2 separate regions of the Homo sapiens genome follow, and region 1 is linked to region 2. The links come from fine-mapping of genetic effects on gene expression. A gene starts in region 2. The other region holds a variant in brackets. All regions are shown on one strand. Distances are between the middles of the regions. Region 1 holds the start of S100A2 (S100 calcium binding protein A2). Region 2 holds the start of S100A4 (S100 calcium binding protein A4).

Region 1 (8,943 bases), 22 kb before region 2:
GAGTTTCTGGTGACGTAGGAGAAAGCTGGTTCCGTAGAATGGTAGCAAGTCAGTTTTCAGGAGGTTCTGGGGGTGGAGGTGGAGGATTTAGAGCATATCTGGAAAAGTGGTGTTGAAGGGAGGAGAGAGGATGGTGGTTACGACGGACAGCACTTGTGCCTCTGTGTCAGGCACTGGGGATATGGAGCATTGACAATACTCAGTGCCTGTTTCTTAGGAGCCCAGTCTAGTGGGAGGGACACATATATAGTCACAATTAAACATAAGAAATAATGGGGGCTGGGTGTGGTGGCTCACGCCTGTAATCCCAGGACTTTGGGAGGCCGAGGTGGGCGGATCACCTGAGGTTCGGGAGTTCGAGACCAGCCTGACCAACATGGAGAAACCCCACCTCTACTAAAAATACAAAATTAGCTGGGCGTGGTGGTGCCTGCCTGTAATCCTAGCTACTCGGGAGGCTGAGGCAGGAGAATCACTTGAACCCGGGAGGCGGAGGTTGCAGTGAGCCGAGATCACGACACTGCACTCCAGCCTGGGTGACAGAGCAAGACTCTGTCTCAAAAAAAAAAAAAAAAAAAAAAAAAAAGAAAAAAGAAAAAAAGGGATAGAGCGATGGGCAAGGGGCTGCAGGAGGAACACTAGCTGTGTGTGTGCATGTGTGTGTGCATATTCTTCTGCTCTAGCAGGTGCGAGGCTGGGAAGTAGATACCGGGATGCTGCATGGAGGCAATGACCTTTGAGCTGAGTTTAAAGGGTGATTAGGATTGACAGGTGGACCTCCTGAGGAAAGGCTTTTCAAGAGAATGTGAGGCATAGGCAGGTGCTTGGAAGCACAGAAGGGCGCGGCATGCACATCAGTGTAGTTGCTGTGCCAGCAAAGGCATGCCATCTCTTCTGAAAGTTATGGGGGTTCACTAAGCATTTGAATCTGGGCTGACATGCTCAGATTTGAATTTTAGAAAGGTTATTCTGGTGGGAGAGCTGAGAAGGGGTTAGAGTTGGGGGGCGAGGATGGAGGTGGGAGGGGAGTTGGGATGTGTTTGCAGTAGTCCAGGAGCAAGATGATGCTGAGGGACCTAAGGCAGTGTGGACAAAGCTGGGTGGTATTTAGAAGGTGGAAACAATAGGTTGACTGGCCAACATCTGGAGGGCAGAGCGGGGGAAGCAGGAGGCTAGAGGACAGGAGGACAGCCACATTTCTGGTTTGGGTGATTGGGTGGATGGTGTTGTTATGTGTGGCAAAGGGGAAGCCAAGAGGAGGTGGGACAATGAGAAATGGTTCTTTTAAGCTTATTTGATTGTATTATTATTTTTTTGAGACAGGGTCTCACTCTGTCACTCAGCTCACTGCAACCTCCACCTCCCGGGTTCAAGCGATTCTCGTGCTTCAGCCTCCTGAGTAGGTGGGATTACAGGTGCACGCCACCACACGCAACTAATTTTTGTATTTTTAGTAGAGATGGGGTTTTGCCATGTTAGGCAGGCTGGTCTTGAACTCTTGGCTTCAGGTGATCTGCCTGCCTCAGCCTCCCAAAATGCTGGGATTACAGGTGTGAGCCACCATGCCCAGTCTCTTTTATATTTATATTTAATCCGGGCTAGGCTGGGCATGGTGGCTCACGTTGGTATCCCAGCACTTTGGGAGGCCGAGGCAGGAGGATTGCTTGAGCTCAAGAGTTCAAGACCCGTCTGGGCAAGATGGCAAAACTCCATCACCACAAAAGATGCAAAAAGATGCGCACAGTGGCGCACACCTATAGCCCCAGTTACTGAGGAGGTTAATGTGGGAGGATCACATGAGGCTGCAGTGAGCTGTGATGGTGCCACTGTACTCCAGCCTTGGCGACAGTGAGTCTATGTCTCAAATAAGTAAGTAAACAAAAATTAAAAAGAATCCAGTCCACAGGGCATTTGAAGGCAAGAGGAAAAGATGCCAGAATCAGAGATGGGGAGAAGATGGGCTTCTGGCGCCTGCTGAGGTTGAGAAATGAGACAGATAGGCTGAGTGTGGGGTGGAGAGAGGATGGGCAGAGAGACTGAGGCTGGTCTGAATGGAAATGAAATGTTAGGGCTCTCAGGGTTATCGGGGAATAATTGGAGCTTCTAGGAAAGGTTTAACGTTGTGACCACCTGTGTTCGTCATGCCTCCCCACCCCTTACTAATTGTGTGAATTTGGCAGACTTTGAGTCTCAGTGTTCTCCTCTGTGAAGTGGGGTCATCTTATTCCAACTCCTGGGATTGTTGTGTGAATTAAATGGGGTAATGTACGGAGAGCACCTGACGCACAGCGAGTGCTTCAAAATTTCAGTCTGCACCCCCCAGCAAAGGATATGCACACGCCCATTGTGAGTGACAAATCCAGGATGACCTGAACCCAATGTGATAACGTGGGTCCTCGCATGCTGGTCATGCTGCCGGGAGACACTTATGGATCCAATTAGTACAACAGGGGAAATAAATTATTTAATGCATTTTGCTAAGACAGAATACCTCAGAACTTATTTTGTGGGGCGGGGCATAATAAAGGGGGTCCTTCTGCTGAAAACGTTTAAGCTCAGGTTCGTGGCACCACTCAACCAAGGTCGACAGTCACACAGTAAGCCAGAGGCAATGTCAGGACTTAAACTAAACCTGTGGCCCCCACAATGAGGCCATTTCTCTTTCCCCTGAACGGCCTGGGGAAAGGGGGTGGGTGGGCAGAACTTGGCAGTGGCCAATCCCTCACTTCTGTCCCCTGGTTTTCTCCTGCCCTTATCTCTAGGCTTGCATTGATTGATTGATTGAGACAGGGTCTTGCTCTGTCGTCCAGGCTGGAGTGCAGTGGCACGATCATGGCTCACTGCAGCCTCAAACTCCTAGGCTCAAGTGGTCTTTCCGCCTCCTATCTCCCGAGTACCCATATCCCTAGGCTTTTAAAATGGCTTCCAGGTATCTGGCTGCCGTCTCAGACATCCACCTGGGCTTCTGGGCAGGGACTGTCCGGGAAACCTCATCTATGTGAAGCAGGTGTGGGTGTAGGAAGGCCGCTTGGAAATGAATCAGCACTGTCTCCTGTTTGAGTCGTAAGCAGGGCGCCAGAGGGTCTGGCGGACAAGAAAGGGAGGATGACAGGAGGCCGGCACTGCAATGACACGCCTTAGCCACCAGAGGGCACGAAGCAGCTGGGCAAAATCCCGCGGGGCCGCTGGTGGAAAATTTCTGGCACCTGGAGCCCGGAGATGGGGTGGACGGAATGTGAGGACCCAGCTTCCTGAGGCTGGGCCGGGGCAGAGTCACTGCTTTGGATGTCCGCAGGGCCTGCTTGTGTCTTGACTACTCTGCCTTTGTAGACAGCTGGAGAATGTGAGAGTGGGATTGGGATCGGACTCTAGGGGCCATTCCGTACAACTCTCCTGCCCTGCCGTGGGGGAGGGAGTTGCCCAAGGTTACGCAGCAAGTTAGTGGCAAATGAATACGATTATCACCAGTCTCAGGTATATGGCCATTTGATGGGCGCAGTCGCAGCCTCAGTTCCTGAGACAGAGACACCTGATTAAGGACAGGCCTTCAGGAGCTGACCCTAGTGACCCGCGGCTCTGCTGCTGTCTCTGTTTTTCTCCCTGGCTTTTCCATCTGACTGACTCTTTGTCTTCTTCGTCTGCCTGCCTGTCTCCGTCTCTGCCCGCTGGGGGGTTTGCTCAACTCCCTCACTGGGTCCTGGGAGCCGCAGTTTCCTGCTGTCACTCCTCAGGGATTTGTAGCTCTCTGAAGCTCTTTTCCGACCCGTTGTCTCGGTTCCACTCTTGGGATCCAGAGGAGAGGTGATTATTTCGTAGCATAGTCAGTGGTGTGATTTCACGGGGTGAGAAGGACTCCCTTGCTCCTAAGCACTCCTCCAGTGACCCCTGTTGCCATGTGGTAGCCGTAAGCACTGGTTGGCACCTGGTGTGGGCGAGACCCTTACCTCATGCAGAAATGAGTAAGACCGGTGAGCTCACCATGTGGGGGTGAGGCTGAGAGAAAACAAGTACACAGGTGATTCAGTCAAAATCAGAATTCTCTAAGTACACACGAAAAGGGCAAAAGGGGCGCTTTGTACAGGACAGAACAGGTAGACACTGAATCCGGTTGGGCCCTGGGAAGGCTCCCTGCAGTGGCCTTTGAAGGGGGGGTTGGATTTCAGCAGGATAGAGGGCATGGGCATGTGTGGGCACGTTCTGAACAGAGGGGTCAGCGCAAGCCGAGGGTCTTGGCCACACTAGTTGCATGTGCCGGTGTGTTTAAGGGACACGCAGCAGCAGGCCGAGTCTGGAGCGCCTCACTGCCAGGCTTTTTAAAAATTTTTAATTTTAATTTAATTTTATTTTATTTTTACTTTAAGTTCTGGCATACATGTGCAGAATGTGGTTTGTTACATAGGTATACATGTGCCATGGTGGTTTGCTGCACCTATCAACCCATCATCTAGGTTTTAAGCCCCGCATGCATCAGGTATTAGTCCTAATGCTCTCCCTCCCCTTGCCCCCATCCTTCTCCCCGCAACTGCCCACAGGCCCTGGTATGTGGTGTTCCCTTCCCTGTGTCCATATGTTCTCATTGTTCAACTCCCACTTATGAGTGAGAACATACCGCCTGGCTTTAAGGGACAGCCATGGGGATGCACTGCAGTTTCTGAGCAGGGAAGGCCCTGTGGAGGCCCTTAGTTAAAAGGAAAGAATGGCTGTGAAAATCGATGCATTGCGCTCCCTTGTCCCTCACCCTCAGTGTGAAGGGTTTTTATTCCGAGTTCTACTTGAAGTAGGCCTCGATGGGAAGACAAGTAGCATGAGGGGTTCAAGTACTGAGGGGAGCAAGGGACACTCGGTGGCTGTGCCAAGGTGTAGAAGAGGACACTGGGGGCCCCAAGGCCTGACTTCATGTACACTGCTCAGGCTGGCCCCCAAGTCACACGGTGACCGCTAGGAAGGGACCAGCCTGTTCTCAGTCTGATCCTCCTGCCATGTCATTATCCAAAGCTCCTCCTGGCAGGGCCTGTTTGGGGTCTCTGTGCCAGTGCTTTCCCTGCCAGGCTGGGCTGGGGCTTCCACCTACTGCTCTGGGACTGCTGCTGCCCTGGCCCTGGGGGAGGAGGGTGTGCCGCTGAGTCACTGCCTGGGCATCTGGGCCTGGAACCTCGGGTGAGTCACTTAGGGCTGAGGTAGAGGGGCTGGGGGAGGGGAAGAAGCTACTCGACAGCTGGAGCAGGGAGGGGAGCTGGGGCCACAGGAAGGGC[G/A]GTGCCCTGATGCCCAGACGGGCCGGGATAGACAAAGGGCCAAGGAGGAAGGGGCCCTGGGAGGGGGCAGCCCTCCCTTGGGCTGGGCTCTGAATGGCCACAGTGTTTGCCTTTCTCCGGGTCTGGGGAGGACATGTGTGTGGGGGGCAGTGAGAGAGGGCTGTGGCTGAGGGCTGTGCTTCAGGCCTGGATTCTGGCTTGGGAAGCTGTCCAGCTGGTGTTTTCAGCCTTGGGTAGGGATGTACCCCTACCCACCCACCCAGCCCTCAAGCTGGAGAAGAGGAGGCCAAAGTTTTCCTGTTCAGCCTTTAACTACTCGGGACTTCCTTATGCTCCCCACAGACTGTGGCCCAGCCCAACTGCGGCTGTGTGTAGAGCAACCCCATTTCTCACTGCTTCCCCATCCTTCCAGACACCTTCCTACACAGAGGGACCTTCCCAGGTATTTCTAAGCACACTTAGTTACCTCATTACCTCATTAAGAGGTATTCTGGTGCTGGCCATTAAAAGTCACTCCACTTCATCCATGCCCTGAAGTCAGTCCTGTCCTTCTCCTCCTGATGTCCCCCAGCTGCCTCCTCTGGCCCCCAGCTTCCTAAGGGTGGCCCCAGGTTGCTTCTCTCTCACACACACGGGCGCATGTATGTACACGAGCACTGGACCATGAAGTCTCAGCGTGTGCTCACAGCCTCTCACACAGGAGTGGGCTGTGACTCACAGGCATGTCATGAGAATGAGGCCTGGCACCAGTCTCCAGGCCCCAGAGCAGGGGTTGCCTCCCCTCACCCCGGTCCAGGATGCCCAGTCCCCACGACACCTCCCACTTCCCACTGTGGCCTGGGTGGGCTCAGGGGCTGCCCTTGACCTGGCCTAGAGCCCTCCCCCAGCTGGTGGTGGAGCTGGCACTCTCTGGGAGGGAGGGGGCTGGGAGGGAATGAGTGGGAATGGCAAGAGGCCAGGGTTTGGTGGGATCAGGTTGAGGCAGGTTTGGTTTCCTTAAAATGCCAAGTTGGGGGCCAGTGGGGCCCACATATAAATCCTCACCCTGGGAGCCTGGCTGCCTTGCTCTCCTTCCTGGGTCTGTCTCTGCCACCTGGTCTGGTGAGTACCTCTGTCCTGCTGAGGGCAGGGTGGGGAGGATCCCCGTGGGTCTCTGTCTTTGTCTCCACAGTTCTCTCATTCCAGCTTCCCTGGTGGGATCAACCTGGGCCTCTCTGGGCCTTCCCCCTTGGAAGAACTCTCTGTGAAGTGCTGAAGTGTTGACTGAAGGGTTTTTTTTTTTTTTTTTTTTTTTTGAGATGGAGTCTCGCTCTGTCGCCCAGGCTGGAGTACAGTGGTGTGATCTCAGCTCACTGCAAACTCCCCCTCCCAGGTTCACGCCATTCTCCTGCCTCAGCCTCCCGAGTAGCTGGGACTGCAGGCGCCCACCACCATGCCCGGCTAATTTTTTTGTATTTTTAGTAGAGATGGGGTTTCACCATGTTAGCCAGGATGGTCTCGATCTCCTGATCTCGTGATCCACCCATCTCGGCCTCCCAAAGTGCTGGGATTACAGGAGTAAGCCACCGCGCCCGGCCGACTGAAGGGTTTTTCTCCAGGTTCCTCTGTGAGGTCTCAGTGCAGGGGTTGCTCTGAGGCCCTCCCCTGGATATCTCAGTCTAGGGGCCCTTCTTTGGGGGTCTAGGCCTAGGAGCAGGAGGTGTGCATGTGGGCGTTGCTGCAAAAAGAATCCTGAGATTTTTTTTTTTTTTTGCAAAGTCCTGGATTCTAGCAGGACTAAGGTGCAAGAGGCAGGGGTCTCAAGACTCTGCCTGGGTCATGGCCCCAAGCAGCAAAGCTCTGCCCCCTGCCTCGGTGAAGGCAGGGCTGGCATGATGGGCCCAGGGCATGCCCTGCCTCTGGCATAGCTCCTCTGGCCTCACCCTGAAACCTGCCTAACCTTTCCAGGCTGGTCTGAGTATTCTCAGAGGCCTTGCCGCTGAGGTCTGTCCCATCCTGATCCCAAGGCAATGAACATTTCATATCTTTAATTCTAATTCCAACAGGATCCTTCCTGGTGGAGAGAATGTTAAGTTGCCCCCACCCTATCCATGCCCCTGTCTGCCTAGAGGCTCAGGGGCCTTCAGGGTGAGGGGAGACACATTCCCCACCCTCTGGGAGCTCCTAGTCTGAGAGAGGAAACACTCCTGCCCAAGGGAGCTTCCAGTTAGATGGCAGAGAGAGATGCCTCTGGCTTCAGGAGTCCCGAGTCTAAGGAGGGAAACGACTCCTTCAGGGAGCTTCCTGCTCCTAGGCTGTAGCCATGGCTCCTGCCAGACTGCACAGGAGCCCCCATCTGCCAGCCGGTGCATGTGGCCCTGCTCCCCAGAGCCTGCGCAGATGCCATCAAAATGGGACTCTGGTCACCCTGTCATTTCCCTTCTGGCAGACACTAAAATGGGGAGCCCTGCCCTCAGGGGGGTGTCCCAAGTGCCATCAGAGGAGGCTTGGTGACTCCCAGACACAAGGGAAGCTTTAGCGTCTGCCCTCAGGGTGAGATGGAGGTATCGCCTCCGGCCTCAGGGAACCACAGTCTGAGGGGGAGATGCAGCCCCTGCCTTCCCATTCAGAGAGGGGTTTTGTGAGGTGGCTTGGGGGCATAGGGCAGAAGTGGATCCTACAGGCTGAGCTAAGGCCCCAAGAGCCTCAGCAGTGTACCCATCACCTGGCACCTCTGCAGCCACAGATCCATGATGTGCAGTTCTCTGGAGCAGGCGCTGGCTGTGCTGGTCACTACCTTCCACAAGTACTCCTGCCAAGAGGGCGACAAGTTCAAGCTGAGTAAGGGGGAAATGAAGGAACTTCTGCACAAGGAGCTGCCCAGCTTTGTGGGGGTGAGTGGCACAGGCCTGTGGGGGAGGTCCTGGTGTGAGTGTGGGGGTGCAGGTTAAATCTCTCCCCCAGTTCCGGGTGCCTGTCGATGCAGGTGCCAGGGTGGGGCCCAGCCCCCTCCCCACTTTAGCTTCATGGCTCCACTGGAGTGGAAATGAGGCCCGAGTGGGAGTGCTTAATTAATGGCTGTTTCCTGCAGCATTCCAGAGAACCATGTGCTGTGAGGGCCTTCCGAGTCCATCTGTTTAATCCTGTCATTGGAGACTTGAGAAACCAGAGCCCAGAAGGGAAAAGTGATTGTCCCAAGATCACACAGCACTGGCACGTTCTCTCTCTCTCTTTTCTTTTCTTTTTTTTTTTTTTGAGATGGAGTTTCCCTCTTGTTGCCCAGGCTGGAGTGCAATGGCACGATCTCGGCTCACTGCAACCTCTGCCTCCAGGGGTCAAGCAATTCTCCTGTCTCAGCCTCCTGAGTAGCTGGGACTACAGGCGCATCCCACTACGCCCAGCTAATTTTTGTATTTTTAGTAGAGACAGGGTTTCACCATATTGGCCAGGCTGGTCTCGAACTCCTGACCTCGTGATCTACCTGCCTCGGCTTCCCAAAGTGATTTTTGTATTTTTAGTAGAGACGGGGTTTCATCATATTGGTCAGGCTGGTCTCGAACTCCTGACCTCAGGTGATCTGCCCTCCTCGGCCTCTGAAAGTGCTGGGCTTACAGGCGTGAGCCACCGTGCCCGGACTCCTTTTTTTTTTTTTTTTTTTGTGGTGGGGGGACAAGATCTCACTCTGTCACCCAGGCTGGATCATAGCTCACTG
Region 2 (8,943 bases):
GGTGGGCAGGTGGGGCCTGTAATGGGTCTGCTGAGGGATCCCTGAGGGCATCCTCAGTGTTGACCTACTTGTGTCCCCCATAATTGCTTCCTTCCTTTCTTGGGAGGCTACAAATAGTGACGCCCTGTCTCTAAGCTCCTACAGCTGAAACGCCAGCACCAGTGGTGAGTGCCAGCTGCTTGGGTCCTGCCCTGGGTTGAGTGTCAGGGCAGTTTGGGGACCCCCAGTAGCCAGCCTGACTCCTGACCCAGGGTCTGGCATTGGAAGCAGAGAGATGACCACAGGCGGGCCTGACACGGGGAGGGAAGTCAGATATAGTGGACGCAGAGGTTTCCTTACACAGTGAGGGGCTGTTGGGGAAGTTTGGGCAGGGAGGTGTGTAGAGCTAAGGTCTGCCTTGGGGTGGGAGCACTGGGCTCAAGGCTCTGGTCTTCCCCTTGATCAGGCCCCTCACCTGCTCCTTGCCTCCTTGCTTCACCTCTGAGTCTCCTCATTTCTGAGGATCATGGCCCTTTCCTCTCCTGGGAACCTGGACACCTTGCTCTAATCCTGGGGTGTTTACAATGAATTAAATCCTGGCAGTGCTTGGCACTCCCCACTCCCCTTCCCCTACTTTCCTGCCAGCCACAACCATGCCAGCCATTTGCTCCCAGCAGGGGGCCCAGCAGTGGGCAAATCTTCAGGGAGAGTCTTGGCCCTGGCCGCCCTGTGCTGCAGGACTCTTGTCCCGTGGGGGAATCAGGAGTGAGTCACTGGGCTAGCATGGAAAAAACTCTTGCCTTCCTGGCTGCCTTCGGGTTTTCCCAGGCTGGAGGCATCATCCCAGAAGGGCGGTGGAAGGGGACAGTGGAAGTGGGGGGAGGTGAGCAATTCCAGGAAGGGCTTCCCCTCCAATAGAACAGAGTATCCCTATACAGAACCTCCCTGCTCAAAACCCCCAGGGGTCGGGAGGGTAACCTCAGGGGAGGCCAGTCTCAGATTGGTAAACACCCGAACTGGTCAACTCTCAAGAGACCATCTGGTTCAGGTTCCTGACTGGGCCAGCGAGGTGAGATGAACCCCAACTTACAGATCAGGCCCCGCCCCTGAGACCCAGAGAGACAAATGGCTCACCAAGGTTGCACAGCTGGCGACAGGCAGAGAGGATCCCACAAGTTTTTCTTCTGGGTGCAGCTTCCTCGAGTTCAGGGCAGGAGGCAGGGTGAGGGCAGTGGTGGTGAGGCTGTGGGGGCGCCTCTCAGACCTGCCCCTCCCTGCTAAGGCCTAGCTTCTCCAAGGGCTGAGGGCAGAGAAGCACAGGGCCAGGCTCTCCTTGTGCAAGTTCCTGCAGGGAGGGAGGCTTCTAGGGCATCTCATGGGCTGGGGCAGACTGGGACCGAGCCATCCCTGGGTGTTGGGGATAAGAAGAGGTGGCAGATAATCTGAGAGTGCTTAAGGAGCCCCACGGTGGGGTGTGTGGGTGGTGGGGTAGGATGCTGTCTCTCTGAGGAGTTTACAGCGATGTTGGGGCAATGAGACCTCTACATGGGGAAATAACAACAGGACAGCAGGGGGATAAATTAGGAGGGGCTGGTGTGGTCTGGGAGGGCTACTCAGAGGAGGGGGAGACTGCGGGGCCTGAAGCCTGATGGAGGTTAAGATGGGTCTGGGAACAGTCTCTGAGAAACACAGAGGGCAGAGGTGAGCTGGGGGGCTGGCCTGGAACTCTGCTGTGAGCCACACCCTTGTTCTGTGACAGTGAGGATGGCCAGGCCTCTGGAGCAGGCGGTAGCTGCCATCGTGTGCACCTTCCAGGAATACGCAGGGCGCTGTGGGGACAAATACAAGCTCTGCCAGGCGGAGCTCAAGGAGCTGCTGCAGAAGGAGCTGGCCACCTGGACCCCGGTGAGCAGTCAGAGTGTCCGTCCCCTCCTCCTCCGGGGGGAGGCACTGCCTAGACTCTGCAAAGAGAGACCTGGGGACAACAAGCATGAGCACAGGACAGCAAGGGAGGGGGCTGGATTGTGAGGAGGGAGTGGGAGGGGGAGAACTGACACAGCAGAAACCTCAGCTTCCTCATCTGTAAAATGGGATGACAATCATCCCTGCTGCCTTGCAGAGCTGTTGAGAGGACTGAGTGAGAGCACCATGAAGAATGCCTAACACTTGGTAGGCACTCAGTAGCAAATAGTAGGTGCTCGATTAATAATCTGAGAGGACAGATTTGGGAGGGGATTGCAACGAGTGCATTATCAGAGCAGGGAGGTTGAAGTCGGCCCTCAGAAGGGTGTAGTTTGGGGTGGGGTGGGTCCACTTGGGAGAGGAAGGAGGGAGGTGGCGTGTGAGGCTGTTCTGCCCTCCTCATCCTACTCCCTTACCTCTCCCAACCCTTCCCTTGCACAGACTGAGTTTCGGGAATGTGACTACAACAAATTCATGAGTGTTCTGGACACCAACAAGGACTGCGAGGTGGACTTTGTGGAGTATGTGCGCTCACTTGCCTGCCTCTGTCTCTACTGCCACGAGTACTTCAAGGACTGCCCCTCAGAGCCCCCCTGCTCCCAGTAGCCTCTGCTCCAGGGGGTGCGCTGGCTGTCGGGGGCTGGGCATGTCTCCCACACCCCCTCCTACCCTCTCTCCTGTACCCCTTTCAATCTGGACTTGCCCAGGTCTTCTGCGATCAGTTAACCCATTTTACCTAGGAGGCCCAGAGATGTGAGGGCTCCTTCCTCAGGATGCCCAGCGAATGAGGGGTAGAGCCACTCTGGGGCCCAGCCTGCCTGCCGCACCCCTGTGGCCTCCCTTGTGGATGGGAGGAGGCGGGATCTGCTCTGAGGCCCTCGAGGCTCAGCAGAGCGTGCACCAATGAGACCACGATGGGAAAGGGCCTATTTAACTCCTAATAAAAAACTGGCATCAGCTTGGTTTTGTTTGGTTCTTCTCTGAGGACGCGTCTCCTGAGCTCTTTGCTCCTCTCTGGCCTTTTCCACTGCGGGAAGGCAGCTGAGGGCAGGGGCAGGGTGCTCCCTGAGGGAAGTTGCAGACCCTGCAGAAATGCAGTGGCCTCCAGGGTCCAGCAGGAGGGCGTGGGGACAAAACAAGGACCCCTGTCCTCCCTTCCTCTCTCTCTTTCTTTGGGATCTTTGAGAGAGGACTGCCTGAGTTTCCCCTGGGACTCAGTGCTCATGGTTGGAGGAGGGTGGGGCCGTGGGTGCAGTGGGGGTGTTTGTTCCCTGCCTCGGGCTGTGGGAGCCCAGAGAGCAGCACTAATGGGATTAGGGTGTCTGAGGTGTTTCTCCCAGCCAGGAAGGGGTGCTCTGTATGGAGGGGTAAGGGAATAACTTGAGCTAGCCCCTATCCCTGAAGCCGCAGCCCCCTGAGGGCCTTAACCCCCTACTTCTAACCCTCACTGGGTTTGTAGCCCACCCTGAGAGGTTGACCCGAATTATAACTCCCCTATTTCATGCCATTTCACCTCTAACTCTCCACCCCAACCTGGATTCTTCATTCCTGACACTCATCCCAACTTTAAATGGCCCCTCCTGATACCCTCTCCGAACCTGAGATCTATCCGTGAGCCCCCACGCCTCACTGCCACTCCACTCCATCACTACCTCACCCAGGACCTTTCCCACTGACGTTCCTGAGGTGGTCCCAGAGCCTCCTTTGGGTGTGAGCCTGTTCCCCTCCAGATCCCCCCGCCCCGACCCTGAGCCTTACTTGGCATGGCAGACAGTACCGGGCATGGGGATCCCCACCCCAGTTTTTGTTTCTGAATCTTTATTTTTTTAAGAGACAAGGTCCTCTGTGTTGCTCAGGCTGGAGAGCAGTGGCTTGAGCATAGCCAACTGCAGTCTCGAACTCCTGGGCTCAAATGATCCTCCTGTCTCAGCTTCCTGACTAGCTGGGACTACAGGCTACAGCCATGCTGCCCAGCTAATTAAAAAAAAAAATTGTTTTTCCTTTTTATAGAGACAGAAGTCTCTCTATGTTGCCTAGGCTGGTCTTGAACTCCTGGCCTCAGGCGATCCTCCCATCTCCCCCCTAGCTTTTGTGTCACCACATTTCCAGGGCAATCTCCCACCTGTCACCCACCACCCCCTGCATCTCCTTTCCTAGGTCCCCATGGGACTACTCCCTGTCCCCCATGCTCCAGGCACAGGCTGCCCCTTCCTCCACCTCTCTAAAACTCAGGCTGAGCTATGTACACTGGGTGGTGCCCATCTCATCCAGTCCCCTGCTAGTAACCGCTAGGGCTTACCCGTTACCCACGGGTGCCCACCTGGGAACAGGAGGCTTGGTTCCACGGCTGGGCTGGTGGAGGGTGCTGTGGCACTTACCGCATCAGCCCACAGCAGGAAGGCAGTATCCGCTCTCCCCTGTCCCCTGCTATGGGCAGGGCCTGGCTGGGGTATAAATAGGTCAGACCTCTGGGCCGTCCCCATTCTTCCCCTCTCTACAACCCTCTCTCCTCAGCGCTTCTTCTTTCTTGGTTTGGTGAGTTGTGTTGGCCTGACTGGCATGCAAGGGGTGTCAGAGGCCAGGGCTGGGGAAGGAGAAGGGGAGGCTGGTGGGGGCCAGATGTGCTAAAGAGATCCAGATGTGAGATTCTGATGTGGAACTCTGGGTGGATTGTGTGCGTGGGTGTGCATGGCACACACACACATGCACGTAAGACGGAGGAAAAAACAAACAGAAAAGTGAGCAAGTGACTGAATTTGAGCTCTCCAGGTGCTTCTGAGATGTGGGCTTGCACACGCTGTTGCTATAGTACGTGTTGGTATGTATGTGCCTGTGGGTATCTGCACTGGCTCATGTTTGCTGGGTTGCGCACTCGGGAGCAGGAAGCAAAGGAAAGGCAGAAGGCAACTGTGGGCCTTTGTCTGGTGGTGTGCCCCATGAGCCTCTGCCCTGCACGCAGCAGCCCAGCTCGAGAAGGTGCATGGCCTCTGCAGCTTCTCTTCCAACCCTTGCCTCTGCCACCTCACTTTGCCCCTCCCCATGCTGAGAGCTAAGCGGCTGTGCTGGTTTTTTCCACTGCAGGCCCCTGGGCAGGCCTCCAGCAGCCACACCCAGTTCTGGGAGGGAAAAGAATGGCAAGGGCGGGGCCTTTGTGGCTGAGCTGTGGGAGTGGATAGACTGAGTGAGGGGTGGAAAAAATGCTGTTGTTGAGGCAAGGCCTGGGAGGCCCTGGGAGTTTGCTGCCCGAATCTCCAGAGCTTGCGCAGCGGATCTTGCAAATGTTCACTGCCCAGAGCATGTGTTCCCCACTGTGCACACCCTCCCAGCCAGGTGCGGGGGCCCACTGCTCTGGGCTCCCCCAGGGAGGGAGCAGAGTCTCGCCAAGTGCTCCTGGAGGGATGGGAGTGGAGCCTGGCATTCTGAACACATCTCTGAGGGGTGGGATTAATAAGACGGTCTCTGTGCCTCCTGCTCCCAGATCCTGACTGCTGTCATGGCGTGCCCTCTGGAGAAGGCCCTGGATGTGATGGTGTCCACCTTCCACAAGTACTCGGGCAAAGAGGGTGACAAGTTCAAGCTCAACAAGTCAGAACTAAAGGAGCTGCTGACCCGGGAGCTGCCCAGCTTCTTGGGGGTGAGTGGGTAGTGCCTGAGTGAGTCCCCACGTGGGGCATTTCCCACAGAGGAGGGCAGCAGTCTTGCTCTAGAGCATTAGCTACAGAGGGCATCTATCAGTGGGGTGGCTGCCTGGGGTGGAAACACATTGAACACCACCACTCACTGCCTGGCCCCATGCTGAAAGAGGGCTGAGAATGAATGGGTCAGACACTGCCAGGTGCTTTGCACAACTTAACTGAAGGGAAGACTAAGCTCAGAGTGCTAAGTAACTTCCCAAGGTGGTCAGTGTACACAACTGCCATCCGGACCGGGACTGTCTGACTCTTGCCATCACTCCAACAGTGGACACTGTTTGAGTTTCTATTTGGCTTGTAGATGTGAAGACACAGATGTGGAGATGATCACAGGCCTGCAGACGTTCCCTTCAAACAATAACAATGTATATTTGTATCAAACATAACACAGTTTATATATTGTTTTCATGACTATTACTACCTCATGGGATTATTAGAACAACCTTGGGTGAAAATGTAGTGGTCCCGTCATTTTTCCATTGCACCAGGTACTCAGACTTCCTTATCCAAGGAGCACCTTCTCCACCCTAGCTTAGCCTTGAGGGTTGGAGTTCCAAACTGGACCTCCCAAAGGAGCCTCCCTGAACTCTGGTCTGGGAGTAGAAACTGGGTCTGGTCCTGGCTCCACCCACTGGGCTTCTGTTTTCTATCTGTAGCCTCTTCTCCCTCCAGAAAAGGACAGATGAAGCTGCTTTCCAGAAGCTGATGAGCAACTTGGACAGCAACAGGGACAACGAGGTGGACTTCCAAGAGTACTGTGTCTTCCTGTCCTGCATCGCCATGATGTGTAACGAATTCTTTGAAGGCTTCCCAGATAAGCAGCCCAGGAAGAAATGAAAACTCCTCTGATGTGGTTGGGGGGTCTGCCAGCTGGGGCCCTCCCTGTCGCCAGTGGGCACTTTTTTTTTTCCACCCTGGCTCCTTCAGACACGTGCTTGATGCTGAGCAAGTTCAATAAAGATTCTTGGAAGTTTTGAGGCTGATGGTTTGAGAGACTCTGGGGGCGTGGGTTGGGGACTGAGGGATATGTTGTGGGGTGGTGGTGGGGAGAGCTGGGAGTTGAGCTGAAGTTTTATGGACAGCAGACCAGTGAAGTTAGGGGAGGGATGCAGGGTGACTAACAGTGTGTGTGCACAGGCAATAGAGTTCACTCGGTGTGGTCAAAGCCGAGAAGGGGACCCCTCACCACCCCCCTGCCAAGGTTTGGAAGGTCCCAGCTGTGGGATCTCAGCCAGCCCACTTACCCCTCCCACCTCTCTCCAACCTTGCCTCTGGCAGGATCTTGAACCGAGGCTGGAATTGAAGGTCATATCTGTTCCTGGTTGGGGTCTGGAATGGAGTTTGGGTGTCCTGGGAGTAAGTCGGAGGGAAAAGAATAAGGCTGAGTTGCAGGGAGGAAGTATTTAGGCGAGAGTGGGATGGGGAGGAGGGCTGGCACTCAGTGCTGACGTTGACAGTCCAGGCCCTGTCCTGCCACCCACTTCCAGATCATTGGCTTCAAACCACAGGGATGGATTAATCCTTTCCTGTGCGTGGTAGGATCAGGGAGGGCAATGTGGAGGGAGACCCGCTGTTTGCAGCAGCATGAGAATATAGGCATTCTCGAATCCACCGTCTCTGCCATAAAGGTCCCTGGATGAGATCTGTTATCAGTCAGGAATCAAGCTCCTTCAGAGAAGGACAGGGGACCTCAGAAGAGATGAGTGGGGGTCAGTGGCTGGAGTGGGAGTGAGGCAAATGGTGGGAAGGTGACCATAGTTTTGGAGACAAAATTCCACATATATGATCTGACAAATGAAATTGAGATTATTTTCCCCCCAGAAAATATAAGGCATGATATTGCTTCCCCTTAGGTAGGTTCAAGGCCAGTGGCTCCAGGGTGCAGTGGTGGGTTGAGGTTAGACTTCAAGGCCATGTCTGGGTGACTCAGGGATCTTTTAGGAAGAGGTGCATGGAGGTCAGGTGCAGAGGCTGGAGGGCTTTGTCCCACTGACCTCCTCTTGAGGGTCCTCTTTCCTCTCATCACATGGGGCTTTTCTCTCAGGTTTCAGAGGAGTGGGGCAGGTGACTCAGATGTTCCCGCAGGGTTTGAATACAGAGACTTGGGAGGAATTTCAGTTCAGGAGAAAGTCTGCTGCCTTCCGCTGCCCTCTCCATCCACCCTCCCTGGGAGCGCCCTCCCTGGGGCCTCCACCCAGGTCACGCTCTCCTTCAGAGATGCCTACTGCATAGCAACCAATCCCTGCTGCCTCTCCAATCTTGCCAGCTGGGGGTGGGGTGGAGTGGGGAGCAGTGGGGAGGCCCCCCAGGCTGGGGTGGGACTGCAGCAGTGATAGGTACTACACCCTGAGCCCAGGTCTGTTCTTGGACTGGTGGTAGAAGTATGTTGTTCTACTGTGGTAGAACGATGTCTGAGTGTCTCCTGGGATACAGGAAACTCTCCCTGGCCCCTACTTCCTCCTTGACTGCAGCCTGAACCTGAACCCCCCTCCCCAATCCACAACCTCTACCCCAGTGCTGGGCCTTAGCCCTTCGCTGGACACCTTCCCTATTCCTGATTCTCAGTCCTCCATGCCAAGAGTCTCCGACGAGCCTTTCCTGTGAAGAGCAGTGAGGCCTAGAAGAAATCGTTCATTTAAAAGCCCTTTAAAAACCTCTGGGCCCATATTAGCTCATGACCTTGACCATATCCTTCGCAGAAAATATCTTCCTCCACTGATCCCCATCTCAAGGGCTGTCTTCTCTACTCCTGGAGTGGGTGGCAGGATGGGTGGGAGGGGCCCGATGTGGAGAGCTTCCTAGGACACGGGGAGATGGTGCCCTGTGTTTGTCCCACACTTCTGAGGTTTTCTTTCCAGGACAGCCTGGTTTCCCTTCTTCGGCTTATTGTTCCATCAGATTTCAGATTTTGAGTTCTGATTTTTGGTCAGAAGAGTAAAGTTTCTGGGATTGGGGACGTGTGTGCTATGGGAACTCAGTGTGTCCCCAGCCCTTGTTTGTAAACAAGGAAGGTGAGATTGGCAGAAGGGGTTTCTCCCCAGCTCCATCCCGGGAGGCTCTGACGTGGGCATCCTCAAGTCCCCAACAACTTCTCATGGGCCCTTTCTCTCCCCTGGATTCCTAGGGACAGAGATCAGGGAAATAAAGGCAGAAGGCAGTGAGAGGGAGGCTATGCCTGCTGCTTGGATTCTCTGGGCTCACTCCCACAGTGGTAAGTCCTTCCTTCCTATGTCTCTGTTCATCTGATATCTGGTGGGTCACGCTGGATGATGAGGGTGACAAGTGGTGGTGACCTCCACCAAGGAGGCCT

The links. PIP is the estimated chance that this variant, and not a neighbour inherited with it, causes the effect.
Region 1: its variant is fine-mapped to the expression of S100A4 in whole blood (TOPMed, PIP above 0.99).

What each region holds. Positions count from the first base shown.
Region 1 is chr1:153,562,916-153,571,858 of GRCh38, reverse strand. It overlaps S100A2 (S100 calcium binding protein A2), which reads left to right and starts at 6,015. Exons shown (of 3, transcript NM_005978.4): 1 at 6,015-6,353; 2 at 7,972-8,125. The coding sequence starts at 7,982. RefSeq lists enhancers at 3,871-4,627, 4,854-5,093, 4,791-5,990, 5,964-6,023, 6,143-6,900 and 1 more. The variant G/A (reference allele first, on the strand shown) is at 5,253.
Region 2 is chr1:153,541,286-153,550,228 of GRCh38, reverse strand. It overlaps S100A4 (S100 calcium binding protein A4), which reads left to right and starts at 4,423. Exons shown (of 3, transcript NM_002961.3): 1 at 4,423-4,476; 2 at 5,420-5,575; 3 at 6,306-6,608. The coding sequence starts at 5,435. The coding sequence ends at 6,470. It overlaps S100A3 (S100 calcium binding protein A3), which reads left to right and starts at 971. Exons shown (of 3, transcript NM_002960.2): 1 at 971-1,048; 2 at 1,739-1,884; 3 at 2,383-2,900. The coding sequence starts at 1,744. The coding sequence ends at 2,547. LOC101928034 (a long non-coding RNA gene) reads right to left here and starts at 4,487. Exons shown (of 3, transcript NR_125947.1): 1 at 4,320-4,487; 2 at 1,114-1,808. It also overlaps a transcript of S100A5 not described here. RefSeq lists enhancers at 1-319, 883-1,444, 4,153-4,342, 4,493-4,542, 4,353-4,933 and 1 more and a silencer at 622-916.